Linked DNA regions of Homo sapiens. The protein of the gene in region 1 purifies or fractionates together with the protein of each later gene. This does not show direct contact. Each region holds a gene or a part of one and is shown on either strand. Other genes may lie near its edges. The genes, in order: ZNF286A and ECI2.

What was found.
Region 2: the proteins of ZNF286A (region 1) and ECI2 purify together in Homo sapiens (affinity purification with mass spectrometry; one large-scale study listed by BioGRID and IntAct). This does not show direct contact.

The regions. Positions count from the first base shown.
Region 1 is NC_000017.11:15,716,417-15,719,019, forward strand, and holds part of ZNF286A (zinc finger protein 286A), read left to right. Parts: coding exon 1-874; 3' UTR 875-2,603. UniProt on the Homo sapiens protein: May be involved in transcriptional regulation.
Region 2 is NC_000006.12:4,118,398-4,122,232, reverse strand, and holds part of ECI2 (enoyl-CoA delta isomerase 2), read left to right. Parts: intron 1-186; exon of another isoform or gene 187-284; intron 285-2,957; coding exon 2,958-3,047; intron 3,048-3,835. UniProt on the Homo sapiens protein: Able to isomerize both 3-cis and 3-trans double bonds into the 2-trans form in a range of enoyl-CoA species. Has a preference for 3-trans substrates.

The DNA.
Region 1 (2,603 bases):
GAAAAAGCAGAGAACTTATAAAGAGAAAAAACCTCATAAATGTAATGATTGTGGTGAACTCTTCACCTACCATTCAGTGCTTATTCGACACCAGAGAGTCCATACTGGAGAGAAACCCTATACCTGCAATGAATGTGGGAAATCTTTTAGCCACAGAGCTAATTTAACTAAACACCAGAGAACTCATACTAGAATTCTCTTTGAATGCAGTGAATGCAAGAAAACCTTCACAGAAAGCTCATCCCTTGCAACACATCAGAGAATTCACGTTGGAGAGAGACCTTATGAATGCAATGAATGTGGGAAAGGTTTTAATCGAAGTACACATCTTGTGCAGCATCAGTTGATTCATACTGGAGTGAAGCCTTATGAATGTAATGAATGTGATAAAGCTTTTATTCATTCATCAGCACTCATTAAACATCAAAGAACTCATACTGGAGAGAAACCTTATAAATGTCAAGAATGTGGGAAAGCCTTTAGCCATTGCTCATCCCTAACTAAGCATCAGAGAGTTCATACTGGAGAAAAGCCATATGAATGCAGTGAATGTGGAAAAACTTTTAGTCAGAGCACACATCTTGTTCAACATCAGAGAATTCACACTGGAGAGAAACCCTATGAGTGTAATGAATGTGGGAAAACCTTCAGCCGGAGCTCCAATTTTGCTAAACATCAAAGAATTCATATTGGAAAGAAACCGTACAAATGTAGCGAGTGTGGAAAAGCCTTCATTCATTCATCAGCTCTCATTCAACATCAGAGAACTCATACCGGAGAGAAACCCTTTAGATGTAATGAGTGTGGGAAAAGCTTTAAGTGCAGTTCATCTCTCATCAGACATCAAAGAGTTCACACTGAAGAGCAACCCTGAAAAATTACTGAATGTGAAGAAATGTAAGTTGGTTTTATCACTGTATTAAATACTTGAGTGTTTAGGTGGAAGGCGCATCCATAATATGCATGTGAGGACCAATTCTGTATGCATCTAATTTCATTTGCGTAATACATAGTTTTGAGCCATAAGCAGGTTCTTTATGTCCGTTAATTTGATAATTATGAAATCTAGCCAGCGATTTCAAAATTTTAATCTCCAACGTCCCAAATAGCTATCTGTGGAAATTCAAGAAGTCCCTGAGAGTAGGTAGCAGTACGAACATTGTGAAATCCAGTTTTCCCCTCTCTTGTTTATGTCAGAGCTTTGTTGTAAGCCTCTCACTTTGTAAGGAAATTCTTATTGGGTAGGTTAGGCTGAGGGCTTACATCCTTATCATCAGGAAGACACAATGTTGTTATTTATTACTCCTTGAGATCTAGATACACATATGGTATAATTCATCTAGAGTGTAATTTCTTTTATATTAGCCTTAAAAACCAAAAATGCTGGGTTCAAAGTCCTTAGAATTCCCTTCCTCCCTCAACAAGCTGCTGTCTATGTTGATGACCATAACTGGGATGTATAATATTTACAGACAACTCTAAGTTACGTTCACATGGATTATGTACATCATTGATTTTTTTTTTTTTTTTTTTTTGAGACAGAGTCTTGCTCTGTTGCCCGGGCTGGAGTGCAGTGGCGCGATCTCGGCTCACTGCAACCTCCACCTCCCAGGTTCATGCCATTCTCTTGTCTCAGCCTCCCAAGTAGCTGGGACTACAGGCACCTGCCAGTACGCCTGGCTAATTTTTTTTGTATTTTTAGTAGAGATGGGGTTTCACCATGTTAGCCAGGATGGTCTTGATCTCCTGACCTCGTGATCTGCCTGCCTCGGCCTCCCAAAGTGCTGGGATTACAGGCATGAGCCACCATGCCTGGCATCATCATTGATTTATGTCATTGTTATCCCTCTACCGCGGAGACCTTCTTTCATTTTCCATTTCCCTGGGAGTTCACGTGAAGTAGTGAATGGGTCAAAATCTTAACAGTGGTTGTTGATCAAGTCCTTCCTTTCTTATCCTTGGCACTGAATAAATCTTTGGTTTTCCATAATCAAAGGGTGAGGGAGACTTCTTTTGTCTACATTATTCAGCTTTCTGAAAGCTATGCTGTGTCCATTTGAGAAAAAGCCCCAGGGATATTGAAGGTCTGAGAAGTTGAGTGGTTCAGTGTGTTATTATATTTAGGGTCCCAGTAAAGAAGAACTGAAGCAACTGTGAGACACCAGGGCATACTTCCCTGTATGAGTGGAAAACAAGGCACGGAAAATAGCTCACAGGATAGTCCTCAACTGACTTGCTTGAGGATAAGCAGCTTCCCTTCGTGAAGAAGTTGCCATTTCTCTGGCCTTCATATTTATCTACTTTTTGTTATTGTTGTCTGTATCGGTTCAATCTCACACTGCTATAAAGAAATGCCTGAGACTGGGTAACTTATAAAGAAAAAAGGTTTAATTGGCTCATGGTTCCATGGGCTGTACAGGAAGTATGACTGGGGAGGTCTCAGGGAGCTTTTACTCATGGCAAAAGGCAAAGCCAGAGCAGGTATCTTCACAGGGCTAGAGCAAGAGGAAAAGAGAGAGGGGAGGTGCTACACACTTTTTATGCAACCAAATCTCATGAGAACTCTATCACGAGACAGCAGTAGGGGGACAGTGCTAAATCAT
Region 2 (3,835 bases), on another chromosome or scaffold:
AAAAAAAAGCAAAGAAGGATTGGTTCCCATTTTACAAATGAGAAAACTGTGGTACAGAGAGGGTAAGAAACTTTCCCAACGTCCCTAAGTAGTCTGACGCCAGAGCCTAAACCCTTAACTCCACCTGCTGCTCTCTTTCTGAAAATCAGCATTTTAAATGCTGCTTACTGGCAACTTTGCATGTACCTGTTTGTGTCCCTTTAGCTGTTGTTGGCAGGTTTCTCAGTTTCCTGCTTGTATTCCTTAGGCTGTGTCTTCTGGGTACATTTTTTTGAATAAGTTTTCTTTTGGATAAAAAAAGAAGATACATGACATTAACAGAAACTTTTAAAAATATTGTGATTATTTTTATGTATATGCTGCATATGTTATAGATTTATATCTTCTAACAGTTATATAGTAAAAACAACAGCGTGTCTGATTATAGGAAATGAAATCTAAATATTCTTTTACATATTATGAATTTTAAATTAACATTCTTTCATAATTTATTCATTAAGAAACACAAAAATATGTCTTAAATGTAAAAAAAAAAAAAACTAAAAATGACTATATACTAAATAACCAATATTGAATTAATTCCAGTAGTTAAAGCCAACCAAAAAAACCACTGGGGCAAAATCAAGACAAATGACAGATTGAGGAAACAATTTTTCAACTCATGTAACAAAAGCTGATCTCTCCACGATACTTTTTAAAGTTTGTCTATAAAGCGATAGATCCACAAGCTAAAATAAAAATGGGCAATGGTGAGGAATGAATAGGTCAGACAAAATGAAATATAAAGGGCTATTAAAACCATATGAGAGAAACCACTGAGAAAATGAAAAGATAAGCCATAGACCAGGAGAAAAGATTTGCCTGACGCTCTAATAAAAGACTTGCAATCTGAATGTGTATCTTACAACTATATAATAGGAAGGTAAACAGCCTAACTTAAAAAAATAGTGGAGAAAATATCTTAACAGTTGCTTCACCAAAGAAAATATACGTATGTCTAATAAGTACATGGTAAGAGACTTAATACCATTAATGGTTAGGGACATGTAAATTAAAACCACAGTGAGACCCCACTACATACATACTAGCATGGTTAAAATGAAAAAGACTTAATAGCTAGGTTTAGTGAGGATGTGGAGCAATTGGAACTTTCATACATTGCTGGTGGGAATGTCAAATGGTACAACCACTCTAGAAAACAGTCTAGCAGCTTCTGAGCTAAATATACATTTACCACACAGACCAGCCATACCACTTAGGTATTTACCTATGATAATTTAAAAGAGATTCACCCAGTGACCTGTACACAAGTGTTCCTAACTGCCTTTTTGTTAACATTATCTGAACATTTTTATTTTTAAATTTTTTTTCAGTTTCATTGAGGTATACTTGACAAATAAGAATTGTACAGTCAGGTGCTGCATAACAACATTTTAGTCAATGGCAGACTGCATGTAAAACGCTGGTCTCCTAAGATTATAACACCATATCTTACTATACCTTTTCTTTTTTTTTTTTCACTCTGTCATCCAGGCTGGAGTACAGTGGCATGATCTCGGCTCACTGCAGCCTCCTCCTCCCGGGTTCAAGCAATTCTTGTGCCTCAGCCTCCCGAGTAGCTGGGACTCCAGGTGCACACCACCACACCAGGCTAATTTTTGTATTTTTAGTAGAGATGGGGTTTCACTACGTTGGCCAGGCTGGTCTCGAACTGCTGACCTCAGGTGATTTGCCCACCTCTGCCTCCCAAAGTGTTGGGATTACAGGCATGAGCCACCACACCCGGCCTACCTTTTCTATGTTTGATATATTTAGATACACAAATGCCATTTGTTATAACTGCCTAGAGTATTAAGTATAGTAACATGCTGTCCAAGTTGGTAGCCTGGAAGCAGTAGGGATTACCACATAGCTAGGTGTGCAGTAGGCTGTGGCATCCAAGTATATGTAAGTATACTCCATGATATTGGCACAATGACAAAATTGCCTAATTATGCATTTCTCAGAACATATCCCCATTGTTAAGCAACACACGACTAGATATATTTAAGGTGTTCAACTTGTTTTTCATAGCAGCCTTCTTCATAGTAGCCTTTCATACGTTGCTAGTGGCAGTGTCAAATGGTACAACCATTTGAATGCTAGAAACAACACCAATGGCATTAACTGGTGAATGATAAACATATTATTGTGCATCCATACAAAGGAATACTACTCAGAAATAGCGAGGAACAAACTACTAATACATACAACAGCATGGTGACTCTCAGAAGTCAGACTCAAAATGCTACAGAATGTAGGATTCCACTTATACAGCATTCTATAAAAGTCAAAACTGTAGGGACAGAAAACAGATTAGCAGTTGCTTGGGGGTGGGAGGGAGGGACTGACTACAGAAGGGCCCCCGGAACCTTTCAGGGTGGCTGAAATGTTCCGCATGTCAGTAGTGGTGGTGGCTATGTAACTCTCTATTTGTTCAAACTCATCCAACTATACACTTTTAAAGGGTGAATTGTGTGTGCATATTAACCACATAATCTTAATTTTTAAATAAATATTATTAAGTATTGTGAAGTTATAAGCAAATCGTGATTTTTAAAAATAACACATGAAGCCAGGCATGGTGGCTCACGCCTGTGATCCTAGCACTTTGGGAGGCCGAGGCAGGTGGATCACCTGAGGTAAGAAGTTTGAAACCAACCTGGCCAACAGGGCGAAACCCCGTCTCTACGAAAAATACAAAAATTAGCCAGGCATGGCAGCGCATGCCTGTAATCGTAGCTGCTGTGGAGGCTGAGGCAGGAGAATCGCTTGAACCCAAGGGGTGGAGGTTGCAGTGAGCCGAGATCGCGCCACTTCACTGCAGCCTGGGCAAAAGAGCGAAACCCTTTGTCTCAAAAAAAAAAAAAAAAATCACACATGAAAAGATGGTTTTCTTTTCTCTCCTGCCTCTGCAGGCAACATTTCATACACCATTTAGTCACCTAGGCCAAAGTCCGGAAGGATGCTCCTCTTACACTTTTCCGAAGATAATGAGCCCAGCCAAGGTAACTTTTGGAATGTTTAAATATAAAATTTTATGAGTCATCTCAAGAAAGAAGGAAGAGTAATCTCATATACTCTCCCTTCTTTCCCTTGGTAATATGGACAAAAGAGAAGCTAATGATTTGCTTTTCAACTCTTTAAGAGTTTTACCAATGGAGGAATCAGGCTATGGGAAGTATCTGCTATGCAGGAAAATTAGAAATTCTCTCTGCAGTTCCCAGAACTGGGATCCTCCTCTTCAGCTGGCTGCTTAGTGCTAGCTGCACTGCAAGCAGCACAGCACCTCAGCCTTGCAGCTGTGTGGCATTAGTCACTTGAAGGACCAGGGCTGTGCCAGCCTCCCTTGGTCCCCTGAGTTTGGAGGCCACTCGGTTCCTTTATGGATGACCAGTATCTCCTAAGGAGAGACATGATGACGTCTTCACTTTCAGAGTTACAGTAAGTACCAACAGATGGGAGGTTTTGTGGGGGCTCACGGCTGCCAGAGCCACCCCCAATCACAGCAGCCCTTCCATCAGCCTGCTCACGGGTGTATTCTCTCCCAGGCTGGTTAAGTGGCTGCTCAGGTCTTTCACTGTGTTTCCTAGTTGCCCACGCCCTGTGGCATGACTCGAAGGGGATTGTGACAAGACCAGAAGCTGAGCTATAGGAAAAGGCTTAGCAAATATTGCTGCAAGATCTCAAAGTGGGGCAGTGGGAATTGAGCTTGTTTTCATTGCCTATTAGGATTTTGTTAAAAACTTATATATGTATGTTTTTACTCTCATTAGGCTATCACATACCCTGAATT